Homo sapiens: one gene and its partners. The protein of the gene in region 1 purifies or fractionates together with the protein of each later gene. This does not show direct contact. Each region holds a gene or a part of one and is shown in the gene's direction. Other genes may lie near its edges.

Region 1 (5,355 bases):
TGGCCCCAGCCTCCCTACCCCACTCCCTGTCCTGGGCTGCCTGTGACCAACCTTGTTTCTGCAGGCACACTGGATAGCCCTGCTGGAGCTCAGTGTCCCTAATCCCCTCCAGATACTGGTGGCCTAGGGGAGGTCATCAAAGACCGGTGGGACATCGACCTCAGCCCGTTTCCACGCTTTTTTTTGTTTTGTTTTGTTTTTTTGAGACCGAGTTTCACTCTTGTTGCCCAGGCTGGAGTGCAATGGCGTGATCTTGGCTCACCGCAACCTCCGCCTCCCGGGTTCAAGCGATTCTCCTGCCTCAGCCTCCCAAGTAGCTGGGATTACAGGCGTGTGCCACCAGGCTTGACTAATTTTCTATTTTTAGTAGAGACAAGGTTTCTCCATGTTGGTCAGGCTGGTCTCAAACTCCCGACTTCAGGTGGTCTGCCTGCCTCGGCCTCCCAAAGTGCTGGGATTACAGGAGTGAGCCACCGTGCCAGGCCTTCTCCAGGCTCTTGGCACCTTAGCCAGAAACAATTTAAGGACAAGTGCAAAAGTCATGAATGTAGGCAGATTTCCTGCAGAGTAAAGGGACTCACTGAAGAAGAGGAACGTGGGGGTCCTCAAGAGAGTGTCTCATGCCCTACAAGGTGTGGGGCTGACCTTTATGGGCTTCTTCAACTAAAGAGGGGTATATTCATGAAGAGTCCAGGAAAAGGTAAAGATTTCTCAAGACCGTGGTGCCACAATTTACACCCAAATACAGGTGTTCCTGGAGCCGTCTTGGCACTGGTGGGTGTACGGTTTCATATGTTACTGATCATACAATGAGATCCTAGGTGAAACCTACATCAAATACAGCGCCATGTTGTGTCTGGTTGGTCGTAGCCAGCTTGGTCCTCATCCTATTTTTCAGGGACTTATTGGCCCTTAGCGCATGCAGCTATTTCAAGTTTCCTTCTTCTCCTCATGTGAAACTGCTGCCTGGGATTTTGTATTCACTTGCTACCACTCTATTAATCTCACATTCTCGCCTCTTTTCTGTGTCACCCCGTGTGGGTCCGACAGGTTGTTACTAGAGTGCAATACAAAGTCTTAGTCAAGGGAACCTCCTGAGGGTTGCTGAGGGCAGGGGTGGAGCTAGTAGCCTGAGGACCTGCCAGTCACGGGGATTCCTCATGGGCACAGAGGAGGGAGGAGGGGTCCATGGCCCTAGCATATGAGAAGCCTCTCCTCTGCCTGGAATTCCCATGCCTCAGCTTCCCCCACACTCCCACCTGTCCGCTTGCCTCTGAACTCACGCATTTCTTGGAAGTCTTGGGAGATTCACCTTTACTCAGATGGTTGTTTACCTGTCTCGTGCACAGCTTGACCTTGGACTTTAAAGTGAGGATAAAGAACGAGGAGGATGGGGGGATGCCCCCCTTCCACGGGGCCCTGTGGCTTCCAAACCTCGGCCTCCTCTGGTCTCTTGTCTGTGGAGCCTCCTTCAAACCCAGGGAAATAAAACCACCTGCCACGGGTTGTGGTTCTTCTAGGATCTTCTATCAATGTTCTCTGAGGTCCCCAGGAGCCATGAAGCTGGGGCTGACTCCCAGGGCAATGGGACTGCAGTGTCCTTGTTCTTTCTTGTTCTATGCATCCATGCTCTGCTCCACCCCTGCCCCTTCACTCTGCCCACACACATCCCTCTAGACTGGCCTTGTGGTCAGAGCCTGGAGTGCATGGGCTGCTGGGGGCCTGTGGGCTGCACTGGGCCAGAACCCCTGGCACCTTCAAGACTGGCCTGGAGCCAGCAGGTAGGTGACCTTTCCAGGGCCTGCCTATCCCAGCTTTCTCCTCCAATCCCTCCCCTCTCTTGCCTGGGTCAATTAGAGAGAGCTTGTCTGTTGGCTGCCTGGCAGGGTGGAGTTCAGGGGCAGGTCAGGAGCCCAGTGACAGCTCGGAAAAAAAAAAAAAAAAAAAAAAAAAACAGAAAAAAAAAACCTACAAAAACAAACCCACCATTGGGCCTTTCCCCTTTCATTCTTCTGTTTTCTACACAGCAAACTCAGTCGTGGCTTTGGAGATCACTTTAAGCTTGTCTCCAGCTGGCACACTAAGGAGGGTAATGGAGAAGCTCCCCCACCCCCAACCCCACCCCTTCCTTCCGGAAGCAAATCTAAGTCCAGCCCCGGCTCCAGATCCCTCCCACAGTGGACCTAGGAAACCCTCAGCTCAGAGAACAACCCTGCATTCCCCACACAACACCCACAATCAGCCACTGCGGGCGAGGAGGGCACGAGGCCAGGTTCCCAAGAGCTCAGGTGAGTGACACAGTGGAACGGCCCAGGGCGCCCTCACCCTGCTCAGCTTGTGGCTCTAACATTCCAGAAGCTGAGGCCTCTGGCATCCCTGCCCTTTCCCCATGGATATCCCATTTCAGACAACCCTGGCCTGCGTGAATCCCCCTCCCTTCCCTTGTTTGTTTGTTTTTTTCCCCGGGGAGGCCAGGTCTTGCTGTCACCCAGGCTGGAGTGCTGTGGGATCCTGGCCACTGCAGCCTTGAATTCCTGGGCTCAAGTGATTCTCTTGCCTCAGCCTCTGGAGTAGCTAGGACTACAGGCCCTCATCATCCTGCCTGGTTAATGTTTAAGAATTTTTTTAAAGATTTTTAGAGATGGGGTCTTGCAATGCTGCACCAGGTTGGTCTCCAACTCCTGGCCTCAGCCTCCCTAGGGTCTGGGATTATAGGTGGGAGCCACCCTGCCTAGGCCTGTGCTTTTGCTGAGTCATCAGAGTTTTGTTCATTCCCACAGCAGCTCTGGCCCCTAGTAGCAGCTCAGTTCCTCAATGGGCCGTGTTTGTCCTGGAGCCCAGATGGACTGTGGCCAGGCAAGTGGATCACAGGCCTGGCTGGCCTGGGCGGTTTCCACATGTGAGGGGCTGAGGGGCTCAAGGAGGGGAGCATCTCCACTGGGTGGAGGCTGGGGGTCCCAGCAGGAAGTGGTGAGACAAAGGGCGCTGGCTGGCAGGGAGACAGCACAGGAAGGTCCTAGAGCTTCCTCAGTGCAGCTGGACTCTCCTGGAGACCTTCACACACCCTGACATCTGGGCCTTGCCCGACGAGGGTGCTTTCACTGGTCTGCACCATGGCCCAGGCCCTGGGATTTTGAACAGCTCCGCAGGTGAATGAAAGGTGAGGCCAGGCTGGGGAACCACCGCATTAGAGCCCGACCTGGTTTTCAGCCCCAGCCCCGCCACTGAGTGGCTTTGTGAGTGCGGGCAAGTCACTCAGCCTCCCTAGGCCTCAGTGACTTCCCTGAAAGCAAGAATTCCACTTTCTTGCTGTTGTGATGGTGGTAAGGGAACGGGCCTGGCTCTGGCCCCTGACGCAGGAACATGGAGCTGATCCAGGACACCTCCCGCCCGCCACTGGAGTACGTGAAGGGGGTCCCGCTCATCAAGTACTTTGCAGAGGCACTGGGGCCCCTGCAGAGCTTCCAGGCCCGGCCTGATGACCTGCTCATCAGCACCTACCCCAAGTCCGGTAAGTGAGGAGGGCCACCCACCCTCTCCCAGGTGGCAGTCCCCACCTTGGCCAGCGAGGTCGTGCCCTCAGCCTGCTCACCTCCCATCTCCCTCCCTCTCCAGGCACTACCTGGGTAAGCCAGATTCTGGACATGATCTACCAGGGTGGTGACCTGGAGAAGTGTCACCGAGCTCCCATCTTCATGCGGGTGCCCTTCCTTGAGTTCAAAGCCCCAGGGATTCCCTCAGGTGTGTGAGTGTGTCCTGGGTGCAAGGGGAGTGGAGGAAGACAGGGCTGGGGCTTCAGCTCACCAGACCTTCCCTGACCCACTGCTCAGGGATGGAGACTCTGAAAGACACACCGGCCCCACGACTCCTGAAGACACACCTGCCCCTGGCTCTGCTCCCCCAGACTCTGTTGGATCAGAAGGTCAAGGTGAGGCAGGGCACAGTGTTTCACATCCATAATCCCAGCACTTTGGGAGGCTGAGGCAGGCAGATCACCTGAGGTTGGGAGTTTGAGAGCACCCTGAGCAACATAGAAGAACCTTGTCTCTACTAAAAATACAAAATTAGCCGGGTGTGGTGGCGGGTGCCTGTAATCCCAGCTACTCCGAAGCCTGAGACAGGAGAATCACTTGAACCCGGGAGAAGGAGGTTGTGGTGAGCCAGAGATCCCACCATTGCATTCCAGCCTGAGCAACAAGAGCAAAACTCACAAAAATAAATAAATAAATAAATATATAAATAAAAATAAAACTGTGGCACCTGTGGTGGCTCACTGCTGTAATGCCAGCACTTTGGGAGGCCAAATTGGGTGGATCACTTGAGCTCAGGAGTTACAGACCAGCCCGGGAAACATGGGGAGTCTCCATCTCTATAAAAATGCAAAATATCAGCAGGGCATGGTGGCATAGCGCTGTAGTTCCAGCTACTGGAAAGTCTGAGGTTGGAGGATTGCTTGAGCCTGGAAGGTCAAGGTTGCAGTGAGTTATTATCACTCCAGTGCACTCCAACTTGGGCGACAGAAAAAAAGAAAGACCACGGTCCTTTTTTTTTTTTTTTTTTTTTTGAGACTCTCTGTCTCAAAAATAAATAAATAAAATAAAATAAAATAAAATAAATCCCACAATAAAAAGAAAAAGCAAAGGTCCAGGTGTGGGGCATGTGAATCCAGGGAAGGAGGCCCTGGCTCAGCCCAGCTTTGGTCCTGTTCTTCTGGGAAAGTCGCCTCACTTCCTCCAGCCTTGTCTCATCTTCTGCGGCGGGGACTGTCTGCCTCTTGCTCTGATGACCAAGAACGTAAGACTCTTCAGTGTAGACCTAAGAAAGCTAGAGGGTGGGTCCTCACAGGCCCACAAAATTTGGTGGCGGTGGGATCACGGCTGGTGGAGCATGCCTTGCTCCAGATTGGGGTGTGACGCATTGATGCAGATTATATTACTATAGAATATGATGGTCTCAGGGACCAGGCAGGACTTTGGCTTCTGAGCAGGGTTCAGCTCCTGACTTGGCCCTACCGGTGCCGTGAGATCTCAAACAAGTCAGCCTCTAAGCCTCAGGTTCCTCCTTTGCCAATCCAAGAGATGAGCTGGCCTGGGACAGGCTGTGTGGTGATGGTGCTGGGGTTGAGTCTTCTGCCCCTGCAGGTGGTCTATGTTGCCCGCAACGCAAAGGATGTGGCAGTTTCCTACTACCACTTCTACCACATGGCCAAGGTGCACCCTGAGCCTGGGACCTGGGACAGCTTCCTGGAGAAGTTCATGGTCGGAGAAGGTGGGTTTGATGGGAGGAAGGAAAGTGTGGAGCTAAGGGGTGGTGGCTACAACGCACAGCAACCCTGTGTTGGCACCCCTTGCCTGC
Region 2 (4,555 bases), on another chromosome or scaffold:
TATTTACCAAATTATTCTAAGAGTATTTCTTCCTGAATACCATGTGAGAAAATTCTTAAGAATTTATTGAGTATGACTGTATATTTGAAAAGAGTGTTTTCTTCTGCTTATCTAAGCCAATAAAGGATCTTCATTATTCAATTCTAACTTTCTAAGGAAGTCAACCTACAGATCAGAAAGAGGATCTTCAAGGAATAGCATCAAAGACATAGTCAGGTCTCCCATGCAGTGACTGGCTGACCATGCAGCCATTACCACCTTTCTGGAAATATTATGCTGCAAAAATGATACAATACACGAAATATCTCAAATTAAAAAATATAACATTTCCCAAATAGGGCACTAAAAACATGATCCCAAATAAAACTAGCTTCAGGGTTTGCAGAATATACTGTTACTCAACACAAAGTTGGACTAAGTCTCAAAGTTAGCCATTCAGTTGTTGTTAACAGTTCATTTCAGGGTCTCTCAGAAGCTGGGAAACTTTCCATTTTTGCAATTTCTTGTACATTGAAGGAAAGGAAGACACACTTAAGACAGCATTACAAAAGTAATTCATGTTTTAAATGTTTAATTCTGGCAGTCGGGCAGGGCTCTCTGTATAACCTCATTTGGAGATGACAAAAATCTAAACTTGAGGGCCTCGAGCCAATAAGTCTTCCTATTTCTTTACTCAAACATTTTCCCGCAATGGTGCTTTCTTTCAACTGTTTTTCTGGTGTATTCATAAATTCCAGATTCTCTATGGGAAGTAACTTTTATTGATTGATTTAACCCTTGTATAGCACATATAACATGCAAGGCATTGTTCTAAGAACTTTCCACATATTAACTGTGTTAATCACTTAATAATCCTAAGTAGGTTCTATTACAGATATGGAAACTGAGGCACAGAAAGTTGAAGTATCTTACTCAAGGTCACACAGTTAGTCAGATCCAGAATTTGGGCCCAGGCCATCTGGCTTCGGAATCCATCTTTCACCGATTGCTGCTAGTCTCATATCTGTTCCATGTTAGAGGTGAGCTCCCATTGCAGAGGTCACACCTGTGATATCACCATTTTATTTAAACAGACCAGAGATGGTCTTCTCCTTTCTGATCACAGACTCACCTTGAAGAGAAAATACTTCCAAATTGATGCCTAGTTTTAATAGCTTACCTGGGGCTTATTCAAATAATTGCCATGATTTAGGCTTTGGGAGAAAGAGAGCTATGAGGCCGTGTGGGTTGTAACGTATGAGACACATGGCGTTCTGCAGGCTCAGCACAGCATCGATTTCTGGTGGGAACACACTCTGATGACCAGTTCCAGAAATAACATTGACTTAATCTCCTCAGTCCCATCATGGTTAGCACATTTCAAAATGCCTCCTTAACTACTTCCATAGGCCAGAGATATTTAGTTTTAACATTTTGTTGAATAAAATAAATTTACACATTCACATTTAATATAACTATTAGATGTTATTTCAAGATTCTCTTCATATTACCATCAAAGCAGGCAGGCAGGCAGGAGAGAACTGTAGGAAGGTTTTGAATCCCTTGTGAAACATTTTTAATTATCTTTTAATAAAGGAATCAGGCCCTGTCATTTGTCAAGGAGACATTTGCAGTAGTAAAGCTTGTGTTTATAATATCCATTTTTATTAGTCATGATTAAAGATAACATTTGTGTACATTTGTTCTCACAAAACACTTTTATATGAGTGTAAAGGTTAATTAATGCATTTCAGCCATCATTTTGCTGGTCATGTGGAAATATAGCTTCTTTAGGAATTGTACTTAGAGTAGGAGCCACATATTATACTATAAAACCATAACAAAAATATTTTAAGTTTGTTCTCACTTGTTGTTGACCTCCAGAGTAAAATATTTAATACTCTGGAAAGTTATGGGTTTCAAAATTTATTTTATGGCAAGAAATAGATAATTACAGTTCTCATAGAGCACATTTAAAATAATTTATTTTTATAGGGCAAAAATATTGCCTAGGACTGAATGATTTTTTTTTTTTTACAAAGATTGTAAAGCAACGCCTGCAAGAGTGCCCATTTAGCAGTTATTCTTCTGGAATAATTGTATTTTGGATGTTGGAGTTCGCACATTAACCATTAGTACAAGTACCCAATATAACAATAGATCATCAGGATAATAAATCTGTCCATCTTTTAGTTGTATGTCTTTATATCAGGATAAAGAGAATTGAGTGAAATTTATCTAAACCTAGTCCCACAAATACTTTTACAAGAGAGCATGTTAAAGTGTAAATTAAATTTTTATTAGCATTCTACTCTGTCTTTGGAAGTTTTTTTTCCTTATGAAATGCAGCCATAAAGTTTAACTTCCATTAACAAAGCTGCTCACAGTAAACCTATTATAATAATAGTTTCCCAGTTTGGGCTTCCTAGTGAGGAGCAACCTAACTCACACGAAACAACCCCAACTTATAATATATTGACTGTTACAAAACTGAGACCAGAAAATCCCATCAAGATGGTACTGTTATCATTTCCAGACTCTCGGGAAGAACATTAATCATCTCAGGCACTTTTAGGATAGACTTATTGCAGCCTCCCTGGGAACTCTGCTTCAGAACATAATTATTTTTATTAATGCAGAGTTACTTTTTATTTCCAACAAAAATATCTATTGTTATTATTTAAGTCTTACAGCTTTATCTGAGAAATTCCAATTAGCACCCTTCTCATAATAAATATTCAAACACATGAAAAATTACCAAAGTTGTTCTAGTCTTTTAATGACATATTACATGATCCTGCACTCTTGTCACTTTAAAAATTATCTTTTTATTATATTTCTGATGATTTTTTTCTTATATAGTTTTTTAAAAGGAGCAGGCAAGCATAGAAGACTAAAAAATGTTCAAAAGAAAAATTAAATCGCATGATCTATCTATATGGGACCTTGTCATTTTTAGAAAACATTCACCTGCTTCATCCTTTTGAATCTTCATATAATCCCTCTGAGATGGGCATACTATACAAGTTGTCTTATTTAAAGATTGGTAAATTTAAGCTCAAATAATTTATTCAGTGGCAAGCCTCAGAGGCAGACTCGGAACACAGGTCTAATATATATTATATATATATTATAACATATAATATATATATTACATATAATAAAGTTGTGTATATTATTTACCTATCAAAATATTTATATGTAATATATAAATATGTTATATATCATGTATGTGCCTATTTCATACATATATACACATTCATGCAAAATAAGGTTTAGCACTCCCTCCACTGTCCTGTAATAAAACATGCACAGTGAGAATAGTCATACACGAGGCATATTTGTCTTCAGTTTAAAGTCATTGATAGTCAGTGTCACTAACTAAAGTAAAATAGATTGGAGCACCAACTTTGTTCTGAAGCCTGTGCCAGGTATTATGAGAACAAAAATAAAAATGTTCCTCACCCTTGGTGGATTTAGTCTTTTGCAGAAAAAAAGATCCTGTACATGTCAGAAAGTTCAATAGTAATAATGGTAATTTATAACTATAAATGGAAGTCACCATCTCACAATTTCACCATCTTAACAATTTTGTTAAACTGCCCTACAATATTACAAGATAGTACATAATGATACACTAGTAACATCAACTAGGAAGTACCAAGATCCACCAAAAGGCTGAAAAATTTAAATATTTAATGAGTCCATCAACCAATCTGGCCAGAGAATTCTTTAATTAAAATGCTTCCCAAATTTTACTGAGAATCAGCAGCGTTTGAGGAGCTAGCCTCCACCCCCAGAGGTTCTCACTCTATTAGGTCTGAAGCAGGTCCCATGGATTTGCATTTCTAACAAGCTCCCAGGTGGTGCTGATGAGGCTGATTCAGAACCACACTTGGAGTAGACCTAAAACAGCAGTGACCTGTAGGGTCCCCAAGCAGCAGGCCAGGACAGCATGTGAGTTACGTCCTCTGTGGAGCTCTGCAACAAGGCGTCAAGAGGTCAGAGTCTAAGTCCCCATCAGCTCTGCCCTTCTCCACCAGTGCTGCTGGTGCTGCATGGAAGGAAGAGCCCAGAAGGGATTCTGAGTTTCAGTCTTTACTCTTGCTGACGCACCTTGGTCAGGTCAATTTTCCTGTTTGTTCCTCTAATTCAGCATCTGTAAAATAGCCATGTGAACTGCCTTGTCCATATCAGAGGGTCTTTTTCAGACTCAAGGAAAAAAACGTGAAAGTGATTAGTGTCTGTCAAGTAGTATATAAATGCAAGAAGTTGAGTTTTTAAATTGTCATTAGATATAAATACCCATGTGCATGCATTTAGAATGAGTAAAGAGGGAACAAGGAGCGCAATCAAAAACTGCGTCATTTGCTTTTTGAAAAATACTTTCTATGTAATGAAAAGTGAAATAAAATGTTAATTGAGTCCCTCTGACAACAGCATCAGACGTTTTGCAGTTCTTGTGATTAGAACCCACCTGGCCAGCCCTTCTTCCTCCTAAAGAAGAGCCTTCTTCTTCTTAAATGAAGGTTGGCTCAGAAGAAGCAATTAACTCATTCAACGTTTTGTTACAGTC
Region 3 (3,803 bases), on another chromosome or scaffold:
AAAATTATTAGTTTTTTACATTTGGAAAAATGGAGGAATACTAATTTTATTTGTGATAGAAACCATAGGCGCTAGTGCTGAGCAAAAAGCTGATGATCTGTGATTAGAAAGGGTTGAGAAAAGCTGGGCATGATGGCTCACGCCTGTAATCCCAGCACTTTGGGAGGCTGAGGCGGGTGGATCACGAGGTCAGGAGTTGGAGACCAGCCTGACCAACATGTTGAAACCCCGTCTCTACTAAAAATACAAAAATTAGCCGGGCATGGTGTCACGTGCCTGTAATCCCAGTTACTCAGGAGGCTGAGGCAGGAGAATCGCTTGAATCCAGGAGGCAGAGGTTGCAGTGAGCTGAGATTGCACCACTGCACTCCGGCCTGGGTGACAGAGCGAGACTCCATCTCAAAAAAAAAAAAAAAGAAAGAAAGAAAGAAAGAAAGAAAGAAAGAAAAAATTATTAAAGAAAAAGAAAAGAAAAGGTTGAGAAATGGGCTCATTGGCTTCTGAGGAGAGATACTGGGATGTCTCGGCCTTGCTGATGGCATTACCCCTTCCAGCTGCCTCTCTCCAGAATGATCTCAACCAGGGTGGCCCAGGGAGCACTAATTCCAAGAGGCAGGCCAACTGGTCCTTGGAGGAGGAGAAGAGCAGACTGCTGGCTGAGGCAGCACTTGAGTTGCGGGAGGAGAACACGAGGCAGGAACGGATTCTGGCCCTGGCCAAGCGACTAGCCATGCTGCGGGGACAGGACCCCGAGAGAGGTGAAGGCTGGGGAGCAGCTGCTCACTGGTATCCCTTGGTCAAGGCCTCCCTGGCAGGGCTGAGTCAGGTGCTGGGGGTATTTGCGCCCAGAGATCTACTGAGCCCAGCCCAGAGCCACAAGGAAGGTGGTAGAGCAAAGCAGTGGGTGAGGAGTCAGGGGCAGCCATGAGGGCAGGGGACCTTCAGTCCATTCAGGGGCTGAGGCTTTCGCTCCAGCCCCCAACCTAGCCCTCAGGCCTGCTTCAGTGATGGCCCAGCCCTGCAGGGCTGGGGCAGGCAGGGACAGGTCATCAGGGTGGCTGAAGAGGCTTCTCAGCTCTGGAATAAGTGCCCCTGGGAACCGAACCAGTTCTGGGAGGCAGGAGGGCAGCCACTCATGTGAAATCTCTCACTCTCACTCCCCCATCCCCTGTTCCCATGTCTCCCTCTTCAAGTGACCCTCCAGGACTATCGCCTCCCAGACAGTGATGACGACGAGGATGAGGAGACAGCCATCCAAAGAGTCCTGCAGCAGGTGGGCCTGGATTACCCACCTGCCACCCCTTGTCCCGTCTCCGCCTCATTGCCCCACCTCTACTCTGGGGCTGGGTGGACAGTAACTGTGAAGCTCCTGTTCTCTTTGGGCCCCCTCCTGTGACCCAGACCCAGACCTGCCCACTGGTCCCTGGAGATAGGGAATCAGCAGCCACAGGCCACAAGTAAAGAAAAAGATGAGTTTGAGAAGCTAAGTCCACAGTGCACAGAAATACTGGGAGATGGAGGGCCTGGGCCTGAAGCAGGGGAGTAGTACATCTTCACCCTGTCCGCAGCTCACTGAAGAAGCTTCCCTGGATGAGGCAAGTGGCTTTAACATCCCTGCAGAGCAGGCTTCTCGACCCTGGACGCAACCCCGCGGGGCAGAGCCTGAGGTGAGAAAAGCCCCAGATGCAGACCCCCAGGCTCCCCCCAGCCTTGCTTCCTGCCTGGCTGACTGCTCCTGCAGCAGCTCACATACCCCACTGGGTACCTTACTTCCTCCATTCCTCTCTGATCCCTGAAGGCCCAGGATGTGGACCCCAGGCCTGAGGCTGAGGAAGAGGAGCTCCCCTGGTGCTGCATCTGCAATGAGGATGCCACCCTACGCTGCGCTGGCTGCGATGGGGACCTCTTCTGTGCCCGCTGCTTCCGGTGGGTGCAGGTGGAATGTTCTGTGCGAGAGCTCAAGGGCTGCCTGGATCCCTGACTTGTATCCCTTTGTTCCACAGAGAGGGCCATGATGCCTTTGAGCTTAAAGAGCACCAGACATCTGCCTACTCTCCTCCACGTGCAGGCCAAGAGCACTGAAGACACCCTGGTCCTCCCGGAAGGGCAGTCCCACAGGCAGCGGCACCCATTTCTGGGCCCAGCCACAGGACGTCCGATGGGAGAGCTTGTCTGGCTCTACTGATGATGGATAGGCCCCTTCCTGAGCCTTGGTGTCCCTGGAATGAGGAAAGATTCTCCATTCGAGAGAATGACTGGGAGGGAAGAAGTCGGGGCCCTCCTATTAGAAGCCCAGACTGGAAGTGAGAGGCATGATGGGGAGAGACCAGACTGAATCTACGGGTGAGCCCTGTAACCTGGCTCTAGGGCACAGGCCCCTCCCCTGGCACTTAGTGGGTCTAATAAAGTATGTTGATTCATTGGGCCCAGCATCTCATTTCTACAACCCTATGAGCCTGGGCCCTGTGAGAGGTGGCAGGAACAGAGCAGGCTGTAAGCACAGTTGTGGGGAATGGGGGAAAAGGTTGAGCCATCCTATGAACTTCTCCAGGCAGGAACAGCCCTACCCATCCTGGTGGCCTCATACGAAGTAAACATGTATTCATTCAACTCAACTGTGCTCCAGCTCTGGGCAGCCCCACTTAGCCACCAGTCCCCACCATCTTGGATTTCTCAGCCTCTCTACTACTCACACAATGCACGCAGGAACAATGCACACACACCCTGCTTCCTGCCTTACTGGCAAAGGACCCCAGCTCCTAGGGCTCCTGTCCCAACCTGCCTGCCATTCAGTCTCAGTATCTCTCTTCCAGTAATGCGCCCTAACCGGACCCCTGACCTCTCGGCATGTACCCTTTACATGCCTCTGCATTGCCTCTGCTGTTTCTCTTCCTGCCCCTGGCTGGAACCAACTATAAAGAGCCCTCGGGCTGAGGTCTACCTCCTGCATCACTTTTGGTTGGAAGAGCCTTTTCTGAGGCTCTCAGATCCAGCTAGGTTTTTCCTGTTACTTCCTCTCTGGGATTTGAAACTAGTCTTTGCCATTGGCGTCCCTCTTGTTGGTTATGCCAGTAGGCTGTGTACCTTAGGCAGATAATGTCTGCTTGGCCCCGAGGCCTTGCTAGATTGTGATCTCTCTGAAGTGGAGCTGTGACTTTCGTCTTTGAATTCTTGAGTCCTTTGGATGGATGGATGGATGAGGTGTGTGGGCACAGCCAAGTGACTTAGGTTGTGGCCTTCCTGTGTATCACTTCATTCTCTCCTCCCCTGTCCCTCAGCACAGATATGTTCCACACTCCATTGAGCTGGGGCTCCTAAAGGTTTTATCCACTTGGCTGCCAAGGAAGGCATTGGACAACAGCCAGCTTTCTCCCAGAGAGCCCAGCTGACAGAAACTAGCTGTGACCACACAGACAGTAGGAGTATGCAAATGTCCCTCCTTGTCCACATTTCTTGTTTGTGTCCCAAGGAGCTATTTCCCTCTTAGCCAGGATCTGGAGTTTCAGGGCAGGCCTGGCAGTGCTGAGGCTGCTAAAGATGGTCTCTCAGGCTTATTTCTGAGGCCGGCTGAGTCTCCGGAGTTTCTTGAGTTGACTGAGCAGCTCAGAGATAAAAGCCTGAGGGAGAAACAGGAGTGAGACCAGGCTTGGGGTCACAATTCACCCCCCACCCTGCCCTCCCTAATCTTCCCCTGCCCCTGACTCCCCAGAGAAGGGAGAAGGACCCACAGCCAAGCCTTCCCTTCAAATACTCCTCATTAGCTACCTCCCCCATTGGGCCTCCTCTTACCCCAGACCAGCAGA
Region 4 (4,555 bases), on another chromosome or scaffold:
AGCTGGGACTACAGGCGCTCACCACCACGCCTGGCTAATTTTTTGTATTTTTAGTAGAGATGGGGTTTCACCATATTAGCCAGGATGATCTCGAGCTCCTGACCTCGTGATCCGCCCGCCTTGGCCTCCCAAAATGCTGGGATTACAGGCATGAGCCACCGCACCCAGCCGCCAAATGGCTTTTTTAAATCGTAAATTACTTTTCTTGATTGAAGTTTTATGCAAAAATTGATCAGGATGATACCTACATGCCAGGTTTTTATATTTGAAACACATAACAAACTGAGCCTTAAAAATTCTGACTAAGCAGACTAGTATATAGGTAAAGAAATATCTAGAAAATGGAGTATTGTGCACAAAGTTTAATTTGGAAATAAATTTGTAAAATAAACTAAAATTAATTTTAGAAACCCTAACTTTGTTTGCTTTGACAATACAATGGAAATTATCAAGTTATAGTTAGAATAGGGGGAGACAAATAATGGTTGTCCTGAAAAGAACCCAAACTCAGACATTAGAGAGTCTTGAGGAGGTTCCATAGTGAATGTTAGGAGCATTATTAGCCTGTGAATCTGATTGGCTGGATTTGAATCCCAGCTCTGGCCACTAGCTGTGTAAGCTGAGATAGTCCCATTGTTGTAAGCCTGAGTGAAAGTGGGGATAATAAATGCAATGCCTGCCACATAAAGTTATGACGTCAAATAGTATACATTTGGTAAAGGCTCACAATTCTTATTATAGTTATTACTATTATTGTTTTACCATTATCATTATCATCATCATTGTTTCTCAAGGCAAAATCTAGCCTCCACCTCTTTATCTGTGTGACCTTGGTCTTTGCTTCTCCAAGATTCAGATTTTCCAGAGCACTGTTACCTCCATCCAGGGTCATTGTGAGGATTAAATGAGAAGTTTATACAGCACCTAGGTCAATGCTTTGTTGATAGTAACTGCTTTTACAGGTTAGCGCAACTAATAAGTCACTAACTCCTCAGCATTATAACATAGGCTTAATAAGTTTAACACCAAGTTCTTTCCTTGGGTGTAAGTTTAGCCTTAAAAGACTTCTAAAGATTTTCCAAAGTTAATGTTCTGTAATTAGCATATATGTAATCAAATAGGACTTTTATGTATATCTCATTCTTTCTTTATAACTTAAATATATATTATCTGGTTACAATTTAACACCCAGTTCTTTCCTTTGGTGTAAGGTTAGCCTTAGAAGACTTTTAAAGATTTTCCAAAGTTAATGTTCTATAATTAGCATATATGTAATCTTATATATTGAACTTTTATGTATATCTATTTCTTTCTTTATAACAAGTATATTTTACCATATCTGTATGTTATTACAAAGTAAATTATCATTATTTTTCAATTAAGAAGAAAACTAAGACTGTAGAACATTGAATGATTTGACCTCCTCAGGTACCTTTTGGTAGGTCTTCTGACTGCAAATGCTGGGTTCCCTCTGTTAAATCATACTACTTCCTGAGAAGAAATAAAAGATAAAGTGGGAAAATTCTGCATCTTAGGCAAGCTAAAGAAAAGTGGTTTAAAAATTATTGCCACTTCAAAAATAACAATGGCAGAATAGAAGGTATCTATTTTTATCACCTCTTGGGATCTTTTTGTGGGGCCAAGGGGAAAGCAGAAAGATACTAAAAGAGATGTTCATGTCCCTTTTTATTCATTTTAATTATTAAAGGGAACAGTGGCTTTGTGATTAATGACTGCTGTTCAGTCTATTTTATATCTTACAAGGATCTGACAGTTTTGTTTTACATTTTATAGCTGCAGCTTATCTTCTGGTGTCCCTTATACCAAGCAATTCATTCCGTCAGATGTTCCGGTCAACAAGGTCTTTGCACATCCCAACCCGTGACCTTCCACTCAGTCCAGACACAACAGTAGTCCTACATCAGGTCTACAACGTGCTCCTTGGTTTGCTCTCAAGAGCCAAACTTTATGTTGATGCTGCTGTTCATGGCACTACAAAGCTAGTGCCCTATTTTAGCTTTATGACTTACTGTTTAATTTCCAAAACTGAGAAGCTGATGTTTTCCACATATTTCATGGATTTGTGGAACCTTTTCCAGCCTAAACTTTCTGAGCCAGCAATAGCTACAAATCACAATAAACAGGCTTTGCTTTCATTTTGGTACAATGTCTGTGCTGACTGTCCAGAGAATATCCGCCTTATTGTTCAGAACCCAGTGGTAACCAAGAACATTGCCTTCAATTACATCCTTGCTGACCATGATGATCAGGATGTGGTGCTTTTTAACCGTGGGATGCTGCCAGCGTACTATGGCATTCTGAGGCTCTGCTGTGAGCAGTCTCCTGCATTCACACGACAACTGGCTTCTCACCAGAACATCCAGTGGGCCTTTAAGAATCTTACACCACATGCCAGCCAATACCCTGGAGTGAGTAAAATTGATACTCTTTTATCTGTATCCTCAAATAGATTGGAAATACCTGTTTTTCCCCTGGTGGGAAGTGGTGGCAGAATATAGAATAGTCTCACCATTCTTTCTTAAGAACTTAATGTGTATTTGTTTTCTTAAATACATATATAAAATGCTGTGTTGTTATAAAATTGATAACTGTGTAGATAACTTTTCTTAGGGTGAAGTTAAAGTTGCATATCCAGTAAAACTTACCTGTTTTTTAATTTGTGGTTTTGTAAATGTATTCTTCATGTGTGCCTAATGAAAAAAGCCAGCTTCATGGTACAGTTTTAAGGAATTGAGTACTTTGCTATTTAAAAATCAGATACTTAGCAAAATCTACATGCTGTGGTAAACTGTGAGCTAGACAATTTTATATCTAAAACTAGTAGTATTCCGCAGTATTTTTTCTCAAGCTGCATCCAAACAAATGAAATGCTTAAGAGATCAATCGAGATACATATATATGCAGTCTAAATTGGGTCCCTTTTACTCTGCACACTTACTTGTAGGTTTTATATTAAGTTTCCTCCCCTCGATGTAAAGCTGTCAAACCTGGTTAATAACTTTTCACTGTTGCCTCTTATTCTCTGTTGTAAACTGTACTTTAAAGACAGACCGTCCTTTATAGACGGTCTTTTTTTTTCTAGATGGTGTAATGAGTTGTATAGAATCTCACACCTGGGAAGAATAACCTAATTTCTAGTCAGAGAAAATTAGAATCCCAGGCCGGCATAGTGGCTCACACCTGTAATTTCAGCACTTTGGAGGCAGAGGCGGATCACTCGAGCCCAGCAGTTCAAGACCAGCCTGGGCAACATGGCAAAACTCCATCTCTACAAAAAATACAAAATTAGCTGGGAGTAGTGGTGTGCACCTATAGTCGCAGCTGCTTGGGAGGCTGAGGTGGGAGGATCGCTTGAGCCCAGGAGGTTGAGGCTGCATTGAGACATTGTACTGCACCCTGGGCAACAAAGCAAGACTCTGTCTCAAAAGAAAAAATCAGAATCCCTACAATGCAGGAAAGAGAGTGAGTGTACAAGTACCAAGAAATTGAAAACCAATGCCATAAGAATACAAAATATCAATCTTTCTGACTTCAAAGGGGTCGGGATAGGATTTATTAAGTTTCAGTAAATTTGTCTCTATCATATTCACATAAATAATATTTGATCTAGTTACTAGATGTGATGTCCAGAATTAAATATACTTTGACAAGTACTAGATGAGTTAGAATTTATCCCTCCATGTTATTTATTGCCCTTGACATCAGTGAAATGTAATGTCTTTTATTGTAGAATGTCCTTATCTATTAGAAATTTTCATGAAAATGGTACTTAAGTCAGTTTTTTGCTTTGAAAAATAAGAAGCTGGGGGTTTCAGTTCATTGACAAGTATGTGTTAGAAGAGCAGTCCTCTCCTGACATGTGCATATGAGTCTATAAAATCACAGCTAGTGATTTTACTAAAATATTTGTTTTTACTTTTTATTCATCAGGAAATTGAACTGAGCATCATTCTAGAAAAGCATTTTAAATGTTGGAACAAAGGTTTACCTCATATACACTATTAATTTAAGGGTTATTTAGGCATTTAAAATCTTTGTGACAAAGTAATGATTTCTCATTAATTAAAGAAAAAGTGGATAGGAGATGGTGTGGCATGCCTCTGGGTTTACATTTGAAGTTACAAAAGTAGTGCTTTAAGCAGTAATAAGACTAAAAATGAATTGTATTCACTTACAGTTTTTACTCTTTCTAAACTTGTATTTTAAGATTTGTTGAGTTCTTTTAGTGTTTATTATTATTGTTATTATTTGTATTTTAGTAGAGACAGAGTTTCATCATGTTGCCCTGGCTGGTCTCGAACTCCTGAGTTCAGGCAATCTGCCCGCCTCTGCCTCCCAAAGTGCTAGGCATCAGCCACTGCGCCCAGCCAAAATTTTTTAAATAGAATTTGTTACTGATTTTATAACTTTCTGAATGGAAGTATAATCTAGCTTATTTGTATAATTTTAAGAGTTGATTAATGAACGTAGAAATGAGAAACTGACCTTCTAAAATGCTATAGGGTTAAAAGATCATATGGCTTATTTGGCTTTT
Region 5 (4,555 bases), on another chromosome or scaffold:
TAGAATTTATGAAGCACTTTAACATAGGTAATCTAAAGTGATCCTTATCAACATTTCTGAAATGAAGTTTTAACATCTTAAAAGTTAATTCAAACAACTTTAGAATATTTTTATCACAGAGAAGCCCCATTCCCCCAACCATCTCCAACACTTGGCTTTCCTTATCTTTTAAATTACATGTGTAGGCCGGGCATGGTGGCTCAAGCCTGTAATCCCAGGCTTGCAGATCTCAGGCAGGTGGATCACTTGAGGTCAGGAGTTCAAGACCAGCCTGGTCAACATGGTGAAACCCTGTCTCTACTAAAAATACAAAAAATTATCTAGGCATGGGGGCATGCGCCTGTAATCCCAGCTACTGAGGCGGCTGAGGCAGGAGAATCGCTTGAACCTGGGAGGCAGGGGTTGCAGTGAGCCGAGATCGCACCACTGCACTCCAGCCTGGGTGACAGCAAGACCCTGTCTCAAATAAATAAATAAATAAATAACTTGTGTAATCATCACAGTCAAGGTAGTGAATATTTCCATCATCCCCCAAATTTCCCTATGTCCCTTCCTGGACTATTATTATTTTTGAGACAAAGTCTCGCTTTGTCACCCAGGCTGGAGTGTAGTGGCATGAGCACAGCTCATTGCAGTCTCACTCCTGAGCTCAAGCAATCCTCCCACCTCAGCTTCCCAAGTAGCTGGGACTGTAGGTGTGTGTCACCACACCCAGCTAAATTTTTAAATTTTTTATAGAGATGGGGTTTCACTATATTGCCTAGGCTGATCTTGAACTGCTTTCTGGATTATTTTTTACAAGGTAAAAAGAATCATATACAAATTTGAGATCTGTTTTGGCTTTACTTGTAGTTTTTTGTTCTTGTAAATTTAATAATTGAAATTTGTGGTCATTCTGTGTATTTAATATTTTTAAAGTCTAAATTGTTATAAAATGAAATTTCTTTTACTAATCAGTTTACAATAATGGCTCATGGCTCATTTTTCTTCAGGATTAAAGAGCCAACGCTGGAAATGTTTCTGTCTAGAATCTTAGCATCCTGGACTAATTCAGCCATACAAGTCCTTGAATCAAGTTCCCCGAGCCTAACGGACAGCCTGAATGGGAATTCAAGTATAGTTGGGAGACTTTTGGAATATGTCTATACCCATTGGGAACATCCATTGGATGCTCTGAGACACCAAACCAAAATCATGTTCAAAAACCTTCTCCAAATGCACCGGCTCACTGTGGAAGGTGCAGATTTCGTCCCTGATCCTTTCTTTGTGGAATTGACTGAGAGTCTTTTACGATTGGAATGGCATATTAAAGGAAAGTACACGTGCCTTGGTTGTTTGGTAGAGTGCATAGGAGTTGAACATATTTTGGCTATAGATAAAACTATTCCATCTCAAATCTTAGAGGTGATGGGAGACCAGTCATTGGTACCTTATGCAAGTGACCTCTTGGAAACCATGTTTAGAAATCATAAGAGTCATTTGAAATCCCAGACTGCTGAGAGTTCTTGGATTGACCAGTGGCATGAGACTTGGGTTTCTCCTCTCCTTTTTATATTGTGTGAAGGAAACTTGGATCAAAAATCTTACGTGATTGATTATTACTTGCCAAAATTATTAAGTTACAGCCCTGAAAGCTTACAGTACATGGTAAAGATTCTTCAGACTTCTATTGATGCTAAAACTGGTAAGAAAAATGCATTTTTGTTTTAGTAGTTTCTAATTATGATGCTTAAATGTAGGTAGCTATGCAGATACTAATCATATTCAAATTTAAATATCACTTCTATAAATAGTAAAGGAAGAGATTAATGATAGATGTTTCAGTTTGAAACGAATGTTCCTATATATAGCTGAATGGAGTTTTTTGGCTGAAGTCATTTCTACAAGCTAAAGAATAATTCCACTTAAAATGATAAACTTTCCTGTATTACAAGGTTTTAATTCATTTTTTCAAGTTCTGAATTTATTTTATTGTATCACTGAAATAAAAGTTTGTGTGTCTTATATAATGTGCTTATTCAAGTCATTGAGACAATAATTAAAAATTGTGTTAGGCAAGGTTAAAGACAGGTAACTTGGCAGTAGCAAGTTTTTTTCTCTGGGGAAGTGACAAAATTCAGAGGCATGATCTCAAGAAATAGCCATCTATAGTTATTTAGAATAGGGGTAAACATCCCATTGAAACTCACAAACCCTACAGGAATCACTGCATTCAAGCATAATTCAGGATGTGTAAAGTGATGATCATGACACATCATATAAATCTTAAAATTATTACATTCTGTTTAACAAAGCAAGAATGTAGTATCGTACAGCATAATTTTAAGAAATATTTTCAACTAAAATTGTTAAAAACGTTCAGTACTTCAAAGAGTAACCATGAGGTAGCAGGAAAATTTGATTCCTGTATGCAAAAATAAGCCATTATTTGTAATTTTTGACAACACTTGTTCTTGAGTTTTTGAAAAGCCATCTGAAATTCAGGATTCAAGAATCTGTTCTGAAGTAAGGTTGTCTTTATTTTTATATCAAGCTGCCCTGTCTTCTTGGTAATGGCTGACGTCCTAGCCTCTGAAACCAGCAGGCTCTTTGTGTTCCTTTTTTAATCTTTACTAGTGAGAAACAGCCACTCTAAAATATGCAGAGAGGTTCAGTGTTTACTTTTAGAGAAGTAATAGTCTGTAGCCACTGATGTGCTTATTTCTCCACCTGATTTTATTTCCTGATTTGCTGCCTGATTCCCTTTCTAGGTGTTAGGGAAAAAGCAAAAATGTTAGCAGGTAAATAATGATTTGTTTATGTTAACGATAAGAGAATTATGCTTACTTGAAATGATTGACAAAAGGGCAAATCATATTAAATAATGATTATTTTAGAATAGGAACTTTAATTTGTGTTAGAAATGAGTTTAAAATGTGATTTTTATTTATTGAAATAAAATGTTAATTGGAAACATGAAAATTAGCAGCTGATAATTATAGTAGTCATTGCATAATACAGTAATGGTCTTTGTTATTGTGCTTTCAGGACAAGAGCAATCTTTCCCATCCTTAGGGTCTTGTAATAGCAGGGGGGCTCTGGGAGCTTTGATGGCATGTCTGCGAATAGCTAGAGCTCATGGACATCTTCAGTCTGCAACTGATACCTGGGAGAACCTCGTGTCTGATGCAAGAATAAAGCAAGGCTTAATTCATCAGCATTGCCAAGTAAGTAAAGAAAATTACCTGGATTTGTACATGCAGTAGATCCCTTTCATGTAGCAGTTCAATATAGAGGCCCCTACATTGTATCCTGAACTGTTTTAGGGAGTTCATAAAGAGAATGAGTAGAAACCCTAGTCTCCCAACTAAACTTTCAGTAGGCCCTTTCTTCAAGCTACTGAAAGTTTAGTTGAGGATGTAAGAAAACTTACATAAAACAACTGGAAACTCTTAGAACTGACAATACAGATACAAGCATGCCATCATGTGCCCTTAAATACATAAGGACTCGCTTGGAAGGCTCAGAAGAGACTGATCAGAGCAGGTGGTGCTTGATTAGGAAAGTGATAGATATGATTAGAAAAGAGGAAGCCTTGGAGCAGCATACAAAATGGAGGGACCCAAATGAGCAAGGTCTGGAGGATGATTAAGAACATTGCTTATCAGGGGTGGAGTGTTTTGGACATTTTTTGGAAAGGCCTAATGCTAGGCTAAAGACTTAGTTGGTTCCCAGGCACCAGCTGGTTTTACTAAGCTAAACCAAAGCTACTCTGTTTTCAGCAAGGAGTTACATTAGTGGAAACGTGAGTTTCCAGAGTGGGAGCAGAAAGAAACCAGGAAACCAGTTAGAAGTGTCTGGCAGTAATTTAAGAGTGAGGTGATGGGGTAAAAGGGGTCACTGGAAAAAAAGAAAAAGGAATGAAGCTGAGCATTACCACGGAATAAAAATCTTTAAGATTGTTGCATTTTATAAATCCCCAATTTACATGTTTAATAAAAGAATTGTATAGGAAATAACCCTAGGATCTTTGAGATTAGGAAACCTTTCTGAGGTACCTATTGGTGAACTGAAGTTTACTTTTTTCCTTTTGTAGCCTATGTAAGTAAGCAATTCAAGTGATTTAGGCTTTGCTTATTTCTTGGAAAATTAACATTTTATTGCTTGATGTTTTTTAGGTAAGGATAGATACATTAGGCTTGCTTTGTGAAAGTAATCGGAGCACAGAAATTGTTTCCATGGAAGAAATGCAGTGGATTCAGTTCTTTATTACATACAATCTTAACAGCCAGTCTCCAGGAGTGCGGCAACAGATCTGTTCTCTTCTTAAAAAGGTAGAATTTCCCATCAGAAGGCATAGGGAAGTGGTGAACTTTGTTTGGGAAATCGTTTTTAAAAAGAGCCCAGATTTTGGGAGCGTGTGGGAATGGTCATGGAATTGGGCTACCACATCTGTTCATGACGGCCGTTCTGTGACCTGTTCTCTCATTCCATAAAGCTTACATTTGGGATTAAAATCCAGAGTGAAAAGCACGCACCCCTCCCCCCACCATTTTTTTTCAGGAGTTCAGAATCA
Region 6 (3,853 bases), on another chromosome or scaffold:
TCATTTAATCCTCACAATACTCCCATTTGGTGAGCATTATAATTAGCCCCTTGTTCAGACATGCCTCTTTGAAGCACAGAGAGGTTAAATAACTTCCCCAAGGTAACTCAGCTCCCAAGTGAGGGAGTCAGGACGAACCCAGGAAGCCTGGTTCTGTGTCTCATGTTGGTCACACTCTGATCTGCTGTACTATATCAAAGGATTGGGTGCTTTGGGGATAAGGTTATTCAATTTGAATTTCTGTTGAATATACCACATTTCGCAAAGTTATTTCTGCTGAAATGGATTATGTTTTTATTCTCAGGTCGATTTAGTAACAGGGTTAGCCATAGAAGAAGCTTGTTATGCTCAGGTATGTAATGCAATCACAAATTCAATGAGGATGACCCTTACAAATTATATTTACCTTCTGTATAATTCAAATGAATTTCACTGAGCAAGATTACCCTTGCGCCCATTCCAAAATCATACAAATGGGTTGAAATTAGTTGTTTCTGCTATTTGTTACCAGCTCTTATGACTGATTCTGTTCCACAGGAATGCCTCTTGTCTATATAATCTAGAAAACTCTTAGAGTAACTGAGTCAGTCCTGGGTGTGCAGGAGCTGTCTCTCTAGGCTTATGCTTTCTTTTGTGGGATTGGTCCTGGCCTCCCACTGCAATGTAGAGAGGTAGAGGAGAGTGGTGATGAGCGTGTGCCTGCCATGCAACCTGGGGTGAGACTGCTTGGCTTTTCCTGAACCTCTGATCTGTCTCTCCTGACCACTGAAAGTTCACTAATGAAATTATAGTTTTATTTTTTACACAGTCGGCCCTTTTCATCTGTAAGTTTTGCATTTGTGGATTCAACCAAGTGTAAATTGAAAATATTCAGGAAAAAAAAAGATGGTTGCATCTGTACTGAACATGTACTGACTTTTTTCCTTATTATTCCCTGAACAATATAGTATAAGAACTGTGTACATGCCATTTACATTATATTAGGTATTATAAATAATCTAGAGATGATTTAAAGTATACAGGAGGATGTGCGTAGGTAATATGATATGCAATTTTATTAATATATAAGGGACTTGAGCATCTGCAGATTTTGGCATCTGCAGGAGGTCCTGTAACCAATCCCCTGCAGATAACTGAGGGATGACTGCATACAAATTATTAGGTCTTCCTGGAGAGGAAAAAAAAAATGTTTTCCCTTTTTTGTCTTTCTCTGAAAGATAGAACTTTGTTTTAGGGCATCTGAAATAGCAAAAAAGTTTTGTTCTACCTTTCCTGGGAGTTGGAAACTGCATGAGCACTCGTTTAAAGGAGCAGTATCTAGAGTGTGACTCTGTGCCCAGCTTGTATATATAAATCACCACCTGTCATTGATGAGTACGTGCCATGAGGAAAGTGAATTACAAACGTCTTAGAAATAGCCTCAGAGCCCAAAGAAAAATTTTAAAAGCACATTTGGCCATAAATTACAACTTACTAAATGTAAACACCAGAAATTATTCAAGGTATTCTTCAGACCACAATGGAATTAAACTAGAAATCAATAAAAGAAAGACTGCTGGAAAAACCCAAAATATTGGGTGATTAAACAACATCCTTCTAAATAATGTTATATGTCAGAGATGTCTTGAGGAATTATAAAGTATTTTGAATTAAAATGAAAATACAACTTCTCAAAGTTTGTGGGATATACTGAAAGCAGTGCTTAGATAGAAATAGCATTGGATGTATATAATAGAAAAGAGAAAATATCTAAATCGATAATAACCTTCCACCTTATTAGGAAACTAGAAAAAGAAGAGCAAAATGGGGTAGAGGACCACTTGGAGTAAGAAGGATGAGTTTGGTTACATAATTAGGAGAATTGTTCAGGTGACTGATTTCAAAATTTTAGAATGTGGTTCTAAGTAGTTTTCTTAGATAGTGCTTGATAAACTTTTACAGTTGTTTTAACATTTTTGACATATTTAATATTTTGTTTTTCTTAGACCATTCCAACAAAAGACAGACTTGAAGGTCTTCTTGCTTTTAAAGAGAAAAGGCCCCCTCGCTATAAAGGAGAATAAAAGGAACAGAAATTCTTAAGATGCCAATGTAATAAATGTACTTCCTGGAAGTGTCTTTCGGATCCACTATATGCCTCAGCACATGGAACCTTAATGACCAAAGTGAAGAGCAGATTATTCATACGGTGTAATAAGCATCTGGAATGGACCCATCCGTGTACTTCATTCAAATGTGTAAATGTCATATTCATTCAGATTTATAAAGCTAGTAGTGTATAGTCAGAAACAGAATCAAAGTTAGATATACATTTTTAAATATTTACTGCATATGAGGCTTTCTGTTAATTTTTTAATGTGAATAATTTATATATTGCACATTCTAGGGAATAATATTGATTGTATGTCTACTGTGCTGCATTAAGAAAATAAAATTTCTATATACCAAAAATGTGAAGTTATACCAAATAAAGTTTCTAAGTGATTAATGCATACGAACAGCTACATATACATATATCTAAACCTGAAAAATGAATTGATATTCTGAGTGAAAACTACCTAATATAAATAAAATTAGTGAAAAGAAAACATGGGAATTTTTCTCTTACCCCATTCTTTTTGAATTGACTAAATCATTGCATGCTGGACTTTAGAAGAAACAACCCTTTCATTGCTGCTTCTATCAGGCAACCTCTTTACATGGTCAGTCCTGTAATACAGTATTGAAGGTGAAGAATGAATCCAAAGACTGAAGCCAAAGAACCAAAGCGGACAGGAGACCTAGTGCAGTGGGACTTGCTGGGACCTCCTCCCAGCAAGTGGTGTGGTCGCCGACTGGCCTAGGAAAGGCGATGTTTGCACACAAAGGAGGAAAGAAAATGGGGCAGCCAGGATTGGAGCATGGAAATGGCTTGGGGTCATGGATTAAAGTGGAGACTGTTCTCTGCTTCCCTACCCTCTGCTATTTGCCTCCAATTTCTGTAAGGGAAAGAGGTGAACTTAACAACCCTTTGTCCTAACAAACACCTGCCTTCCTACCCAGGCCAGGTCAAGAAGCTGTAAACGGCCTCCAGGTTGCATGCCTGAGTAGCCACACCTGGGGAGTAGGCACTGGTGGGAGTTGTGTGGGACATTGGGAACTGGAGAATTCGCTGTGGAAAAAAGGAGAACATTCTGATGCCTTTAAGTAATTTGAGATAGCTCTACTTTACATTCATTTTACCAAACCACCCTGCCTTCCTAGTTTGTGTCAGGTCTGAGTCTGGTCATGCCAGAGACAACGTCCCCGGGAGTGCCCCTGCAGCAAGCTTCACTGTGGTACAGCCCAGCTGTGTCCCTAAGGTGTCCTCCTTTCACATTTCCATGTATCAGATAAACACCCATTTTACTGTGGATTTACATCCTCATTGTGGCGACTTCATTGCTATTTGAAGGCATGTAGGCTTCATTTTTTTAATTCTGAAACTTACATTTTTTAACTTAGGAATTTGAACTCAACCTCAATTCTAAAATTCTTATAAGAGGCAAATGTGGACTGGCTGGCTGCTGATGTCTGTCCTGACAAAGGTAGGCGGTGTCTTCACTCATGTTTGGACACTAAGGTGAGCGCTATTTTCTTTATGACCTTTGGTGCTGAGGCTCTGCGGATTTATGATGATTGCTCAGCTGATCATCATACTATAAAGAGGGCTTACTAAAATTCACATTTGGCACTCTCTGTGGTGGTCGTATCGGGTGGCATGCATACTAAACTTGCTGGGCTATTCGTTTTGTGCGTGATAATTTGCACCTAAAATGCTGGTGGTGGTTTTCATAGCCTTTTAAAGGTTGCAGGGCCAGTTTGTCCTATCCAT
Region 7 (4,555 bases), on another chromosome or scaffold:
AGGCGGAGTCTCACTATGTCGCCCAGGCTGGAGTGCAGTGGTGCAATCTCGGCTCACTGCAACCTCCGCCTCCCGGGTTCAAGCAATTCTCCTGCCTCAGCCTCCCAAGTAGCTGAGATTACAGGCATACACCACCACACCTGGCTAATTTTTCTTTTGGATTTTTAGTAGAGACAGGGTTTCACCATGTTGGTCAGGCTGGTCTCAAACTCCTGACCTTGTGATCCGCCTGCCTTGGCCTCCCAAAGTGCAGGGATTACAGGCTTGAGCCATCACGCCTGGCCATTTTTGTACTTTTTGTAGAAGCGGGAGGGTTTCACTATGTTGCCCAGGCTGGTCTTGAACTGCTGGGCTCAGGCAGTCTGCCCACCTCACCCTCCCAGGGTGCTGCAATTACAGGCATGAGCCACCGCGCCCATCCCCAATGGTTTTTCCTTAAATAGAAATTGTTGTGAATGGAGGCTCATCCTTGTAAACCGCTTAGGCAGCTTAAGAGTCAACAGGGATTTGGAAAAACCAGCAAGCCTGTGTCAAAAATGAGGCTCCCCTTGAATGGGGCTTGAGCTACAGATTCAAACAGCGGCAGTGACATTTTGATCTCCATTTCCTCCTTTTCTTGTGTCTTTTCTCTGTGTTACACTGTGAGTGTGGTGACTGGGGCTTCCCGTGGCTTTACTCTTCACTGTTCATCCAGCTCCCAGTCCTGGGAGGAAGTTCACCTCCACGCCCTGCCCTTAGAAAACTGACTGTACAAGGAGTGAACGGGCCTCCATGAACAGGGAAAGTGCTGTGACGTCAGAAGACGTGAATTTAGAATTCTTTTCCCGAATTCCAGAATTGCCTGAGACTGCTAACATCAATCTCCATTCATATTTCAGTTAGTTATAACAGGAACCTTGCTTTAGTTTAGAATAGCTCTTAAGGTTGACCTGTGGGTAATAAAAGGTCATGCTTTTTCCTACATGAGGAATATGGAGAAAACAAGGTCACTCTTTTTTTTTTTTTTTTTTTTTTTTTTTTTTTTTTCAAGACAGGGTCTCACTCTGTTGCCCGGGCTGGAGTGCAGTGGCGCCATCTTGGCTCACTGCAACCTCCGCCTCCTGGGTTCAAGTGATTCTCATGCCTCAGCCTCCCGAGTAGCTGGGATTACAGTCGCGGACCACCACACTCAGCTAATTTTTGTACTTTCAGTAGAGATGGGGTTTCACCATGTTAGCTAGGCTGGTCTGAAACTCCTGGCCTCAACTGATCCGCCCACCTCAGCTTCCAAAAATGCTGGGATTACAGGCGTGAGCCACTTTGCCCGGCCCAGGCTATGCTTTGCTTTTTTTTTTCTTCTTTCTTTTTGAGACGGAGTTTCGCTCTTGTTGCCCACGCTGGAGTGCAGTGGCGCCATCTCTGCTCACTGCAACCTCTGCCTCACGGGTTCAAGCAATTCTCCTGCCTCAGCCTCCCAAGTAGCTGGGACTACAGGCATGCGCCACCATGCCTGGCTAATTTTGTATTTTTAGTAGAGACAGGGTTTCACCATGTTGGCCAGGCTGGTTTTGAACCCCTGACCTCAGGTGATCCACCCGCCTCGGCCTCCCAAAGTGCTGGGATTACAGGTGTGAGCCACTGCACCTGGCCCAAGCTATGCTTTTCTAATGATCAAAAACATACCAATTTGTCCCAAAATTTCAAATAGTGCATCTGGTTCTCCCCTGCATCCTACCACCACTACCACCTCAAATTATCACAGATAATTGACATTTAGATGTTCAAGCCACATCTTCCAGACTACCCCTTGAACCTGGAAATGGCATGAAAATCTCCAACTAGATCCTGAATTTTCGGTATCCATTGTTATTCCTCATCCTATTTTTTTGTCCAGGTGGGAAGCTCTGTCCCCATTACTCTCTCTATTCATCCATTCCTCCAAAATGCACCTCCCCTAAACCACCTCCACCTTTCCACCCTCAGCCTCTCCCTGCTCCTAACTGCCGTCCATCCTGAACTTCTGCAAAAACCATTCCCCTCACACATTGCCATATATATGCCCTTGGAAAGATTACAGACTGTGTAGGGGGCTGGTTTTTGTTTGGAGTCTGTGTGTTTGTCCCTGGAATTTCTCCAGGCATTTCTGGACTCCACCCTTTGAAGTAACTATGCAGCCTGTCTATCCAGTTATTCTACCTAACTAAGCACATAAGTGGAATTTCAGAGATTAGTGCTATGGCCGGGCACGGTGGCTCACGCCTGTAATCCCAACACTTTGGGAGGCCAAGGCAGGCAGGTCACTTGAGGTCAGAAGTTCAGGACCAACCTGGTCAACATGGTGAAACTCTGTCTCTACTAAAAATGCAAAAATTAGCCGGGCATGGTCATGGGGGCCTGTAATCCCAGCTACTGGGGAGGCTGAGGTGGGAAAATCAATCACTTGAACCTGGGAGGCGGAGCTTGCTGTGAGCCAAGGTCGAACCTTTGTACTCCAGCCTGGGCGACAGAGTGAGACTCCGCCTCAAAAAAAAAGAAAAGAAAAGAAAAGAGATTAGCACTATGGAGGTCTACACTATCTGTTGATAGTCTGTGAGCCTTGTCGTGATTCTCAAGGGCAGTTAACACTTTCAGGGAAAGTCATTTTATCTCAGACCTAATAACAAAATAGATGCTAAAGCATCTGAGTGACAAGATGAAGCGAAGTCAGGATTTGTAGTCAAGAGACCAGGGTTTAAGGCCTGGCGCAGTGGCTCACACTTGTAATCCCAGCACTTTGGGAGGCCAAGGCAGGCGGATCACTTGAGCTCAGGAGTTTGAGACCAATCTGGGCAATATGGCAAGACCCCATCTCTAAAATTATTCATAATAATATTTTATTTTTAAAAAATTTTTTAATAAAATAATAAATAAAGAGACCAGGATTTAAAATCCTAGCTCTACTACTTTAACCATGCCAACGTGAACAAGCTGCTTAGGTTTTCTGCAAAATAAAGGTGATATCTCTGTTATGAGGATTAAATGAGATAATGGAGAAACTGGCTCGTCCAACATAGTCAGCATTCAGTTAACATCTATTCACCCAGACTGGATAGGCCCAGGTCACTGATCTGTCTGATAGAATCCTCCCAGGTCATAGTCACTTGACTCTGTGTGTGTGTGTGTGTGTGTGTGTGTGTGATGGAGTCCCACTCTGTCACCCAGGCTGGAGGGCAGTGACGCAATCTCGGCTCACTGCAGTGTCCGCCTCCCGGGTTCAAGTGATTCTCCTGCCTCAGCCTCCTGTGTAGCTGGGATTACAGGTGTGCGCCACCACACCCGGCTAATTTTTTGTATTTTTAAGTAGAGATGGGGTTTCGCCATGTTGGCCAGGCTGGTCTCGAACTCCTTACATCAAGGATCCATGGTGTCTCATGCCAGTAATCCCAGCACTTTGGGAGGCCGAGGTGGGTGGATTGCATGAGACCAGCTTGGGCAACATGGCGAAACCCCATCTCTACTAAAAATACAAGAATTGGCTGGGTGTAGTGGCACGCACTTGTAGTCCCAGCTACTTGGGAGGCTGAGGTAGAAGGATCACTTGAGCCCAGGAGGTCAAGGCTGCAGTGAGCTATGATCATGCCACTGCACTCCAGCCTGGGCAACAGAGCAAGACCCTGTTTAAAAATAAATAAATAAGAAAGGCTGCCATCTTCTGCAGTCATTTTTTTCTTTCTGTAAATTTCCAGGCTGATGATATCACATTTTATGAGGCATTTTGCTTTCCCCCAGCATTTTAATGAGTCTTGGCCTTGTCCCTTATCAGCCATCACTTACTGCAAACTAAGTTCTCTCTCGTGCTCTGTCACGCATAGCTCTAAATGGCGTCTTTTTTCTCTCTCTCTTTCTTTTTTAATTTAAATTGTTTCATCAGCTCAGTTACTTAATAACATGCCTGTAGAATGGCTTAAATTTCGCATTTACCTGGGGTTTGTCTCCGTTCTCCTGGATTCATAGACAGTTACACAATTATGTGTATAATTTAAACAGCCATTCCCAGAAGCTCCGAAGGAAAGATGGGTTACAGGATTTTAGATTTAACTATCAAAGGCTCAGGGGCTAATTAACTAGCACTTGGGTGGAAATTTATATTAAGTCACACATATCTAGGACTGAAATCTTCATGTAGCAGCACGTCATAGGTTCTGAAGTATTTCTCCTTTATTCCTCATCATAACCCCCACACCACGCATTGATATCGTTACCCCCATTTGACAGACGGGGAAAACAGACCTAGGAAGGTTAGATGCTTACTTAAGTGATACAACTGGAGCTTAAGTTCAGGTATTCTGACTCAAGGGTTACCAGAGTTCACAAGGAAAAATACAGGACACCAACTTAAATCTGAGTTTCAGATAAGCAATGAATAATTTTTTAATCATAAGTATATCTCTTGCATAAGTACATCTCATGCAACATTTGGGATATACTTACACTAAAATATTATTTGTGGTTTATCTGAAATTCAATTTAACTGGGCGCCCTGCATTTTATCTTACAACTGTGACTCCCAAATTTGGTGCTTGTTCCTTAGTATTCT

What was found.
Region 2: the proteins of SULT1A1 (region 1) and STMN2 fractionate together in Homo sapiens (co-fractionation; one large-scale study listed by BioGRID). This does not show direct contact.
Region 3: the proteins of SULT1A1 (region 1) and ZFYVE19 fractionate together in Homo sapiens (co-fractionation; one large-scale study listed by BioGRID). This does not show direct contact.
Region 4: the proteins of SULT1A1 (region 1) and USP34 fractionate together in Homo sapiens (co-fractionation; one large-scale study listed by BioGRID). This does not show direct contact.
Region 5: the proteins of SULT1A1 (region 1) and THADA fractionate together in Homo sapiens (co-fractionation; one large-scale study listed by BioGRID). This does not show direct contact.
Region 6: the proteins of SULT1A1 (region 1) and AUH fractionate together in Homo sapiens (co-fractionation; one large-scale study listed by BioGRID). This does not show direct contact.
Region 7: the proteins of SULT1A1 (region 1) and TPM4 fractionate together in Homo sapiens (co-fractionation; one large-scale study listed by BioGRID). This does not show direct contact.

The regions. Positions count from the first base shown.
Region 1 is NC_000016.10:28,606,864-28,612,218, reverse strand, and holds the start of SULT1A1 (sulfotransferase 1A1), read left to right. Parts: upstream 1-2,174; 5' UTR 2,175-2,288; exon of another isoform or gene 2,289-3,359; 5' UTR 3,360-3,363; coding exon 3,364-3,511; intron 3,512-3,615; coding exon 3,616-3,741; intron 3,742-3,830; coding exon 3,831-3,928; intron 3,929-5,141; coding exon 5,142-5,268; intron 5,269-5,355. UniProt on the Homo sapiens protein: Sulfotransferase that utilizes 3'-phospho-5'-adenylyl sulfate (PAPS) as sulfonate donor to catalyze the sulfate conjugation of a wide variety of acceptor molecules bearing a hydroxyl or an amine group.
Region 2 is NC_000008.11:79,617,067-79,621,621, forward strand, and holds part of STMN2 (stathmin-2), read left to right. Parts: intron 1-3,875; exon of another isoform or gene 3,876-3,896; intron 3,897-4,065; exon of another isoform or gene 4,066-4,138; intron 4,139-4,555. UniProt on the Homo sapiens protein: Regulator of microtubule stability. When phosphorylated by MAPK8, stabilizes microtubules and consequently controls neurite length in cortical neurons.
Region 3 is NC_000015.10:40,812,145-40,815,947, forward strand, and holds the end of ZFYVE19 (abscission/NoCut checkpoint regulator), read left to right. Parts: intron 1-554; coding exon 555-758; intron 759-1,193; coding exon 1,194-1,273; intron 1,274-1,568; coding exon 1,569-1,667; intron 1,668-1,798; coding exon 1,799-1,926; intron 1,927-2,003; coding exon 2,004-2,082; 3' UTR 2,083-2,940; downstream 2,941-3,803. Other genes in the region: PPP1R14D (protein phosphatase 1 regulatory subunit 14D), read right to left, coding at 3,503-3,617. UniProt on the Homo sapiens protein: Key regulator of abscission step in cytokinesis: part of the cytokinesis checkpoint, a process required to delay abscission to prevent both premature resolution of intercellular chromosome bridges and accumulation of DNA damage.
Region 4 is NC_000002.12:61,211,934-61,216,488, reverse strand, and holds part of USP34 (ubiquitin carboxyl-terminal hydrolase 34), read left to right. Parts: intron 1-1,794; coding exon 1,795-2,429; intron 2,430-4,555. UniProt on the Homo sapiens protein: Ubiquitin hydrolase that can remove conjugated ubiquitin from AXIN1 and AXIN2, thereby acting as a regulator of Wnt signaling pathway.
Region 5 is NC_000002.12:43,571,465-43,576,019, reverse strand, and holds part of THADA (tRNA (32-2'-O)-methyltransferase regulator THADA), read left to right. Parts: intron 1-992; coding exon 993-1,684; intron 1,685-3,027; coding exon 3,028-3,206; intron 3,207-4,157; coding exon 4,158-4,313; intron 4,314-4,555. UniProt on the Homo sapiens protein: Together with methyltransferase FTSJ1, methylates the 2'-O-ribose of nucleotides at position 32 of the anticodon loop of substrate tRNAs.
Region 6 is NC_000009.12:91,212,558-91,216,410, reverse strand, and holds the end of AUH (methylglutaconyl-CoA hydratase, mitochondrial isoform 1 precursor), read left to right. Parts: intron 1-304; coding exon 305-352; intron 353-1,985; coding exon 1,986-2,063; 3' UTR 2,064-2,588; downstream 2,589-3,853. UniProt on the Homo sapiens protein: Catalyzes the fifth step in the leucine degradation pathway, the reversible hydration of 3-methylglutaconyl-CoA (3-MG-CoA) to 3-hydroxy-3-methylglutaryl-CoA (HMG-CoA). Can catalyze the reverse reaction but at a much lower rate in vitro.
Region 7 is NC_000019.10:16,095,945-16,100,499, forward strand, and holds part of TPM4 (tropomyosin alpha-4 chain), read left to right. Parts: exon of another isoform or gene 1-800; intron 801-4,555. UniProt on the Homo sapiens protein: Binds to actin filaments in muscle and non-muscle cells. Plays a central role, in association with the troponin complex, in the calcium dependent regulation of vertebrate striated muscle contraction.